2 linked regions of the Homo sapiens genome follow. The protein of the gene in region 1 interacts with the protein of each later gene in a biochemical or structural test. Each region holds a gene or a part of one and is shown on either strand. Other genes may lie near its edges. The genes, in order: RAPGEF2 and RALGDS.

Region 1 (2,887 bases):
TATATTCTCTATAGCACAAGAAATTACTTGCTTGCTCATTGATTTCTTTTTCTTCCCTGCTGTATTTGCAGAAGATGAACAAGTTTCTGCTGTTTGAGGCACAGACTTTTCTGGAAGCAGAGCGAGCCACCTGAAAGGAGAGCACAAGAAGACGTCCTGAGCATTGGAGCCTTGGAACTCACATTCTGAGGACGGTGGACCAGTTTGCCTCCTTCCCTGCCTTAAAAGCAGCATGGGGCTTCTTCTCCCCTTCTTCCTTTCCCCTTTGCATGTGAAATACTGTGAAGAAATTGCCCTGGCACTTTTCAGACTTTGTTGCTTGAAATGCACAGTGCAGCAATCTTCGAGCTCCCACTGTTGCTGCCTGCCACATCACACAGTATCATTCCAAATTCCAAGATCATCACAACAAGATGATTCACTCTGGCTGCACTTCTCAATGCCTGGAAGGATTTTTTTTAATCTTCCTTTTAGATTTCAATCCAGTCCTAGCACTTGATCTCATTGGGATAATGAGAAAAGCTAGCCATTGAACTACTTGGGGCCTTTAACCCACCAAGGAAGACAAAGAAAAACAATGAAATCCTTTGAGTACAGTGCTTGTCCACTTGTTTACAATGTCCTCCTTTTAAAAAAAAAAAATGAGTTTAAAGATTTTGTTCAGAGAGTAAATATATATCCATTTAATGATTACAGTATTATTTTAAACCTTAAGTAGGGTTGCCAGCCTGGTTTCTGAAAAACCAAATATGCCGGACAGGGTGTGGCCACACCAAGAAGACGGGAAGACCTGGCTTGTGACCCTGGCTTCCCATGTCCTTCTGGTCTCACCCGCGAAGTGCCCTATCCTGGAAGTATGAAATGTTAGCCAATTAATACCAAGACACCTCATCTGCTCCTTCCCCAGTGGATGGGGTTCTTCTGTAAAACTGTTTGCACATGGCCAGGGGAGGGAACTAGGACCCTTGTGTCCTGTCTGAGCCTTATGGAGGCAGGACGGTGTCATTGGCGGATGTGTCCTGCTCCATTGAGATGGATGGCAAACCCCATTTTTAAGTTATATTTCTTTGATTTTTGTTAATTTAGAGGTGTAGGTTTTGTTTTTTGTTTTTTTGTTTTTTTTTAAGAGAAACATTTATAACTGGATAGCATTGCAGTGAAAGCAGCTTGGGATGTTGGAGCTAATGCCAGCTGTTTATACTGCTCTTTCAAGACAGCCTCCCTTTATTGAATTGGCATTAGGGAATAAACAAGCCTTTAAACGTGATAAAAGATCAAAAACCTGGTTAGACATGCCAGCCTTTGCAAGGCAGGTTAGTCACCAAAGACTAACCTCCAAGTGGCTTTATGGACGCTGCATATAGAGAAGGCCTAAGTGTAGCAACCATCTGCTCACAGCTGCTATTAACCCTATAATGACTGAAATGACCCCTCCACTCTATTTTTGTGTTGTTTTGCACAGACTCCGGAAAAGTGAAGGCTGCCAATCTGAGTAGTACTCAAATGTGAGGAACTGCTGGTCTTGGATTTTTTTTCCATTAAATTCAGCTGATCATATTGATCAGTAGATAAACGTAAATAGCTTCAAATTTTAAAAGTGGAATTGCAGTGTTTTTTCACTGTATCAAACAATGTCAGTGCTTTATTTAATAATTCTCTTCTGTATCATGGCATTTGTCTACTTGCTTATTACATTGTCAATTATGCATTTGTAATTTTACATGTAATATGCATTATTTGCCAGTTTTATTATATAGGCTATGGACCTCATGTGCATATAGAAAGACAGAAATCTAGCTCTACCACAAGTTGCACAAATGTTATCTAAGCATTAAGTAATTGTAGAACATAGGACTGCTAATCTCAGTTCGCTCTGTGATGTCAAGTGCAGAATGTACAATTAACTGGTGATTTCCTCATACTTTTGATACTACTTGTACCTGTATGTCTTTTAGAAAGACATTGGTGGAGTCTGTATCCCTTTTGTATTTTTAATACAATAATTGTACATATTGGTTATATTTTTGTTGAAGATGGTAGAAATGTACTATGTTTATGCTTCTACATCCAGTTTGTACAAGCTGGAAAATAAATAAATATAACATAAAGCCTTGCCTATATTCTTAATGAATCATGCATGCTTTTTATTATTAAATTGGAATAGAAGCCTTTCGTCTCCTGCAGAAGCAAGTCCTTCGGCTGGAGAGATTTAGCCTCATGGTTATTGGAAACTGCCCAATAGCCTATTTATTTTAGGCAGATCTCTGTTGATCCAAAGCAATTAATATCATTAACGTTAGCACCAGCCAAACCATGTTCAGAATTCAGTGTTTCTTGAAAATGAAGATGCTGTCACAATATATTTGCATAACATTTGTCTCTTCTCAACCGTTTCCAACAATAATCTTTATGGTACGTAATATTTTGGTTCCCAGTATACATACTGAGAGACAGGACCTCAGAGAAACTGACATTCAAGGTCATGATTATTAAGTGGAGAGTACAATTTAGCTAGTGATTCTGGACTTCTAACTAGTACACAATATGAGTGCTGATGTGTGGTAAGTCTGAATAATACTTTAGTCTATCAGAAGGGCACTTAATTTTAAAAGGTAAAAACCAGTAAGTAGCAGCCTGCTTACGCACATGTTTAAATGAGTGACTCATTTCTTTTCCTCAAGCAAGCATAACTAAAAGTATTAGCCATCAGCCACTGAGAAGTCTCAGAAGTCAGAGTGGAAGCAACTGGAAGCAGAGGCACCAAACACTGGAACATGTGAGGGAGCCTGAAGAGGAGCGGGAGGAAGGTCCCTCCAGAAGCTAACAGGAAAATGGCCAGGGCTAGGCTTCAAGATCTTTCCAAGGTATTCGTGCCAGCTATTTTGCT
Region 2 (7,696 bases), on another chromosome or scaffold:
TCTGGGGGACCCTCCCGAGTAGAGCAAGAGGGGAACCTGAGGGTCCTGGGGGCTGCCCCTTCAGAGTCACCCAGGAAGCTCTCCTGGAAGACCACAGTCTGTACACATGCATGCAGGGACACACACCCACACAGGGACAGGCCCTTTGCCTTGGGGTCTTCAGTGTCAAAGTGCTCATGAGCCCTGGGGATTAAACCGAAGACCTGCACACAGTGTGATCAAGAGATCAAACAGTGGGAAGACGCGGGAGGCTGAAGGGAGATGCTCCCTGTGAATACAGAGAAGCCCTCTTCACTCCAGCCCACCTGCAACTGCCCTCAGGCCTTGGGTCAGAATCCTGGCCCTGCCACTGACCAGCTTGGTCACTCTGTGCAATCTAATTCACCTCTGTTGCCTCAGTGACTTTATCTGTCAAGTGAGCTCTTAACAGTCTTGACCCCAAAAGGAGATGATGCAAATTACTTAGCCAAGGACCTCCCCAAAACCTGCTGGCTCTTATTAGCTGTTATCTTAAACCTGTGGGGTCCAGTTCTGGGCTTGCTTCCTCCAGGTAGCTCTCCCCAGCGTCCTGTGGCCCAAAGCACTTTTGCCTTCCTCTGAGCCATAAGCTTCCCTACTGCTCACCTGACCTCAGGGCTTCTGGGCTGCCTGGGCTTCCTCTGACTCCTGGTGGCTCCTGCACACAGTAGGTGCCACAGAGAACACAGCCCATGCTTAAATCCTGGCTGCGGCCCTTGCTGGCTGCACGGGTGTTTAGGTCAGAGACTTCCCTTCTCTGACCCCCTAGCTTCCTAGAAGGTGGTGTTGGCACCTACTCTGTAGGGTTGGTCTAAGGCAGATGAAGTGAGGGGGTGGCCCACAACCTGCACTTTTTGTCTGGCCAAAGCAACAGCCTGTCCAGAGATGGGGGCACGGACCAGGTCACCTCCAGAAAGCAAGAACTGTGCAGGCCAAGCTGGGTCATTGGTGGCTTGGCTTAGAATCGGGAAGATAAGCGGAAGCCCAGATGTGAGGAGATCTGGCAGCCCAGAGGGAAGCACCGGGTGGAAGCTAGGTAGGGAAACAGGGATGCGGGGGAAGGCAGAAACTGTCTGGTGGTTTCCAGAGAGGACAGGGACCAAGTGCGCAGCGTCAGCTCTGGCAGGCCACATAGACACCAGGAAACCAGCCCCAGGACGGGGGGTGTTGGCAGGAGGGACAGGGACTTCCCCGCCCCCTCCCTTGGGCCCTTGGTAAATGGTCATTGTGTTCAGTTTCCGGCAGTGGCCTCCTCTCCTGCCAGGATCCTGGTTTTCCTGACCCAGCCAGAAGCTTCCCCTTTGATTTCTAAATAGCAGTCGAGGTCTGGATCTCAGTGCTGAGGCTGGGCAAGGAGCGCCAGGGCCAGAGAGAGGGAAGACAAGACCCCCAGGCAGGGGTGGGGCTCAGCTCTGCCTCTCCCTCAGTTCCTCAGGGACGGAGAGAGGGAACCTGCACGGCCACTGTGAGCGCTCCGCCGGACCCTCCCAGCACACAAAGCCCGAGCTGCTGCCAGAGGTAATGAAAGCCAGATGAGCGCTGGGCTGGTGTCAGCCTCCCACCCCCACCCTCCCAGGGGTCCCTCTCCAGCCGCCAATGAGGACCAGAGCCCTGGATAGATGAGGGTTGAGGGAACACGTCTGGTCCGGCCATCTGCCAAGCTCAGGAGGAAAGGGTCTCTCAGGCGTGTGGTGTTCCCCCACCAAGAGCTCTGCCCAACACTGGGCGGAGAAACAAGTCGCATCCAGGCCCTGTCTAGGTACCGGGACACCAAGAGGCACGAGACTCAGGCTAACAATCGCCAGCAATCACAACGCGCCACAGTCTAAAGCCATGAAGCGACTGGAGACGCAGCAAGGCAACACGATGCCGCACGGGGACTCAGGAGGTTCACTGTGAAGGCTGCAGCCCAGCCAAAGCTCTGATGGGCCCTGAGCCCCCGATCCAGGAATGGCCTCTGTGCAGGCCCTGTGCCCAGGCAGAGCAGGGCGAGGGGGGCATCTCTGGATTCCACTCCCTCTGCTGTGTAGTCAGCAGCAGTCAGGTGGGAGGCAGATGGCACCACCCAGAGACCCAGGGCACACGAGAAACAAGCCCCCGCCCTCACCTAGTCACCCTCCCCTCCATCCATCACAGGTACACCACTCCCTTCTCTGAATCCTACCCAGTCCTTACCGATTCAGGGTGTTGGCACTCTTTCCAGTTAAGCAGAAACAAGTCTTGCCCGCCCTGGGCCTGGGCCACCCTCCTCCCCTCACCACCAGGACATCTGGTCCCACGTGTTGGAGGCCTGCTGCTCCACCCCATCCCCCGACCCCCCCCCCACCCCGCTCTGAGCAGCCCCGATGTCCCTGGTCACCAGATCCACATCTGCCCCAAGTAGGGTCTGTCTGGAAGGCCCCTATGGTCTCATCACCTCTGAGGATTCTAGGATTTGGCCTTCCCGACCACTTGTTCCACACCTGCATCGTAAAGGCTAACGACGCGCTGCGGGCCCTGGGTGGGAACTGAGTGAAATAAGGCACAGGCCACCGATGTAAACAGGGACAGTGCCGCAGAAAAAGGTCCACCTGGGCTGCAGCGGCCTTGGTGACAGCAGGCCCTGGAACGGTATTGAGGGGCGCAAAACCCCAGCCGTGGTCCCTACTGTTGGACGGGGCGCGGCGGCAGCCCCCACTGCCCACCCTGCTGGCTGATTTCTGCAGAAGGCCCCGACCCCCACCTATGGAGGAGAGAGGAGGGAGGCGGCCCGCTGGGATCGCCCGGCCCCGTCCGGGGCTCGCCCCGACCTGCCCAGCTCTGCCGCGGGTGGGGAGGCTCCGACGCACCCCCCGCCCGACCGCCCCAGCTCACCCACCTCCGGGCGCGGCAGGTCGGGGTCTAGCTGCGTGAAGCTGTGCAGCACCACCGGGCAGCTGTCGGGGACGCCCACCTCCAGGCGCACGGCGTCCCACACGCTGCGGCTCCGCCGGGAGCCCGGAAACAGCGGCTCGGCGCCGCCAGCAGGCCCGGCCGCCTCGGCCCACATGCGCTGCACCATGGAAGGCTCGCAGCGCGGGCGCGGGGCCGGCCCGGCGCGCGGCGGGGGCGGCGGCGCGGCCCGCGCGGCTGGGCTTTGCCACCGCTGTGAGCCCGCGGCCCGGCCCTGCTGATGTCAGGCTGGGGGGCGGGGCCGGAGGGGAAGAGGGTGGGGCCGGGGAGGGGCGGAACCGGAGAGTCCGAGGGACGCGTGCGTGCGCGCGCCCGCGGCCCCGCCCTCGCCGAGGTCAGACCCGGGGCGGGACCGGGAGCCTGGAGGGGCGGGGTCTGAACAAAGAGGGCGGGGCCGGGGAGGTCGAGGGGTGCGCGTTGGCTGGGTCTCCCGGAGGACCGGCTGTCACGTGTGTCGTGGGGCCTTGGGTACCCCGGTTAGGCACCGTTTGCGTGTCACGCTGCTGCAGTGCGTGTGTTGCGTAGGGCTGAAATGTGTACGTGCTGATCATGTGTGGGGAAGCCGCCCTGGAGTCAGCTACCCCGAATTCCAGCAAAGCCTCTCCCCAACTCTGTGGCCTTCCACAAGTTGCTTAACCCCTCTGAGCCTCACTGTTTCTTCATCTGGAAAATCTGGGTAGTGAAAATGACTTCCTCAAACAGTTGCGGGGAGGATGACATTACGTAATGGACATGAAGCACTCAGCACTGAGCACCTGCACCTGACTACAGGCTCAGGCGGAGTTTGGAGAGGCTGACCATGTGTTCAGTGACCCTGTCAGTGCAATTGGAAATCCTGAGTGTGGGGCTGTGTGTGCAGTGGGGGAAAGGGTCAGAGAGTGGGGCCCTACCTTTTTGGGGCAAAGCCCCACACTATCCCCTTACAGACACCCTCAGAGGAGGGGAAGCCAGGGAGGTGGGGGAGAGCGGAAGGCACCAAGGTTGGGGCTGAGAGGCATCTGACAAGGAGGAAGGCATCAAGAGTGACAACGCTGGGCAGAGCACATGGCTGCGTGGCCTGTCAGCTGGGGCTGCTTGTGGCTTGGACATCCCTGGTCTCAGGGTGGAAGTGGGGCTGCTGGGGCTGAAGGGGAAGCAGGGACAGGGACATCCTCAACTACTCTTTCTGGAAGCCAGTGAGGAAGGAAGACAGCCTGGGGCTTAACAGCAGGGCCAGGAGAATGGATGAATGAATGGGACCCTTCCTCATGCCTCACTCATCACTGGGCCTGCCCTGGCCTCAGCCTTCAGTCTTCATGGAGGCCAGCAATTGCTGCCAGCAGCCCTGGCCATGCCAACCTCCCCAGGTCTGGTCCGTACTATTGGGCCTCAGTTTCTCCATCTGTAAACTGAGAGGGCGGGACCAGACAGCACATTCCACGAGCACATCTTGCCCCCTTCCCAAGTGCCAATCCTCAGACACCCACGAAACACTTCCACTGTGACTGGAGTGAGGCGGCAGTTCATCCGTTCAGAACAAGACCCCCATGTGCACACGACTAGAAGGGCCTACTTCACAAAAATTATGGTGGTAAGTTGCAGCTGGGTGGAAGCTCTACTGGTTTTCATTTTACTTCTCTGAATTTCTAATTTCTAAAATCAGTATTTTAATAATCAGCTCTATGTGATAAATGCTGTTTTTGAGACAGTCTCACTGTCACCCAGGCTGGAGTGCAGTGGTGTGATCTCGGCTCACTAAGGCCTCCGCCTCTTGGGGTCAAGTGATTTTCCTGCCTCAGCCTCTCGAGGAGCTGGGATTATAGGCACCTGCCACCATGCCCAGCTAGTTCTGTATTTTTCGTAGAGACAGGGTTTCACCATGTTGGCCAGGCTGATCTTGAACTCCTGACCTCAAGTGAACCGCTCGCCTCGGCCTCCCAAAGAGCTGGGATTACAGGCAGGAGCACTACGCCCAGCCTGTTTTTGTTTTTTTTTTAAGAAGCAAGATGGGTAGATTTGATTTGGGATGGAGATCCCTAGAGGCTGTTTAGGAAGCCTCCAAGCCGTTTGGCCAGGGAGGGTAATGTGGGTGAGGCGTATTTCGAGGCAGGAGGTCCCCACAGGGCCACAAAGAGGTGACCGAGACACTGCCCTCGGCCCTAAGCTCCTCCTCCCATCCCTTTCTTCTGGGGCCAAGCTCCCAATGCCTCCGGAAACTGAAAGTCCAGAAGCTGCCTGCCACTGACTTTATCTCCTCTGCTCTCTTTATCTCCTTCGCTGAGTGATGGGCCTGGGAACAAGCGCCCACCCGTTTTATAGCCCAGAAGGACAAGTGACTCATGAGGACATAGAGGAATCACCACTATTCTGGCCTTGAAGGTCCTGGGTGCTGGGGCGAGGGGTGGCCCCAAGGAGGCTGGAGTGGTGAAGAGTAAAGAATTCATCACACTAAACCCCCCAACGCGGCTGGCCTGGCTCCCTCCCATCTGACTATATCATCTACAGGAGCCAGGGCGGGGGAGGGCGTTACTTAGCCAGTCCCTCTGGCCGGTGTCTGTTTTTACAAAGTTCCTCTTCCTGCCTTGTTCCCCTACCTTTGGGACTCACCTCCCAACTTCTGGGAAGCCTGATCACTGCTCTGGCTGTACATGAGACACACACACACAGACAGACACAAAGATACACAGAGATGCACACACAGAGACACACACATAGAGACAGAGACACAGACACACACACACACACAGAGACACAAAGATACACAGAGATGCACACACAGAGACACACACAGAGAGACAGAGACACAGACACACACACACACACACAGACACACAAAGATACACAGAGATGCACACAGAGACACACACATAGAGACAGAGACACAGACACACACACACACACAGAGACACAAAGATACACAGAGATGCACACACAGAGACACACACATAGAGACAGAGACACAGACACACACACACACACAGAGACACAAAGATACACAGAGATGCACACACAGAGACACACAGAGAGACAGAGACACAGACACACACACACACAGACACAAAGATACACAGAGATGCACACACAGACACACACATAGAGACAGAGACACAGACACACACACACAGAGACACATACATAGAGACAGAGACACAGACACACACACAGACCCACAGAGACACATAGAGACAGAGACACAGGCACACACACACACACATAGAGACAGACACAGAGACACAGACGCACAGAGACAGACACAGGCACACACATTTAGAGACGGAGACACACACACAGAGACATTGGAACAGAGACACACACGCAGAGATAGAGACACACAGACAGAGACATACCTACTCAGAGACATAGAGACAGACACAGAGGCTGGGTGTGGTGGCTCATGCCTGTAACCCAGAGCTTAGGGAGGCAGAGGCAGGATTTCTTGAGCCCAGAAATTGGAGACCAGCCTGGGCAACATAGCAAGACCCCATTCTCCACAAAAAGGGAAAAAACAAGTTTGAGATAGACACAGACACACACACACAGATATAGAGACATAGACACAGATACACACACATAGAGACAGAAACACAGATACACATGCCCCCCTAATGAAGGCACAGATAAAGTTCCCTGCACAGGATGTGTTGCCCAATGCCCTCAGATCGGGCGGGCCTGACTCTGCCTCACACTGTTAGCAACTGGGGTTGGCATTCATGGGACGCCTCCTGCATGCAAGACCCTCTCCTGAGGCCTCCTGTAAGCTGTGGGGACACCCTAACCAAGGGCAAGGCCATCCTGGGACAGCGTGTGTCACCAGTGGAGGAACGCAGCACCACTCACAGTGTTCTCCTCAAAACCCAAACCTAAATCAAGGCAGGCCTCTGCATATAACTGCCATTTGTGGGATTACAGGGGACAGAGAAACATGTTCAACACACCACAAGGGTGCAATCCACAAATCCAGGCTGTGGGAACCTCTATGGGACAAACAACCCAGTTTCTTCAACAAATACATTTCAGAGGAAAAAGAAAGGGGAAACTAGACTAAAAGAAGGGTCAGAGACGTCTAACAAATGCAATGTGTGGATTTTGGATCATGATGTCAGCAAGACAACTGTTTAAAAAAAACAACTATAAGACATGTGGATTGTCTGAACACTGCTACATATTGGATGACATTAGACATCTTTTTAGGTGTGAGAATGGTGTTGCCGTCACTAGTAGAGTTACATCTTGGGCTATCTGTGGATGGCATCACATGCCTGGGATTCATGTAAACATCTCCAGGGGCGGGCAGGGAGTGGGGCAGTGAGAGGTGAACAAGAGTGGCCCTGCACCGATGGTCGTGAAAGCTGGGGGTCTTTATGCCATTTTCTCTATTTTTGTGTCTATTTGGAATTATCCATAATAAAAGTTATAAGAAGAAAAATGGCCAGACGCAGTGGCTCACGCCTGTAATTCCAGCACTTTGGGAGGTTGAGCTGGGTGGATCACTTGAGGTCAGGAGTTCAAGACCAGCCTGGCCAACGTGGTAAAACCTCATCTCTACTAAAAATACAAAAAAATTAGCCTGGCATGGTGACGCGTGCCTGTAATCCCAGCTACTTGGGAGGCTGAGGCAGGAGAATCGCTTGAACCTGGGAGGTGGAGGTTGCAGTGAGCCGAGATTGCACCACCGCACTCCAGCCTGGGCGACAAAGCAAGACTCCGTCTCAAAAAAAGAAGAAAAAGGACACAGCTTGAGACTCACCCTCTGATGCCTCTGAGGCTC

What was found.
Region 2: the proteins of RAPGEF2 (region 1) and RALGDS form a complex in vitro, tested with the Homo sapiens proteins (one study listed by BioGRID).

The regions. Positions count from the first base shown.
Region 1 is NC_000004.12:159,358,043-159,360,929, forward strand, and holds the end of RAPGEF2 (rap guanine nucleotide exchange factor 2), read left to right. Parts: intron 1-71; coding exon 72-97; 3' UTR 98-2,131; downstream 2,132-2,887. UniProt on the Homo sapiens protein: Functions as a guanine nucleotide exchange factor (GEF), which activates Rap and Ras family of small GTPases by exchanging bound GDP for free GTP in a cAMP-dependent manner.
Region 2 is NC_000009.12:133,118,097-133,125,792, forward strand, and holds the start of RALGDS (ral guanine nucleotide dissociation stimulator), read right to left. Parts: upstream 3,145-7,696; 5' UTR 3,059-3,144; coding exon 2,876-3,058; intron 1-2,875. UniProt on the Homo sapiens protein: Functions as a guanine nucleotide exchange factor (GEF) activating either RalA or RalB GTPases and plays an important role in intracellular transport. Interacts and acts as an effector molecule for R-Ras, H-Ras, K-Ras, and Rap.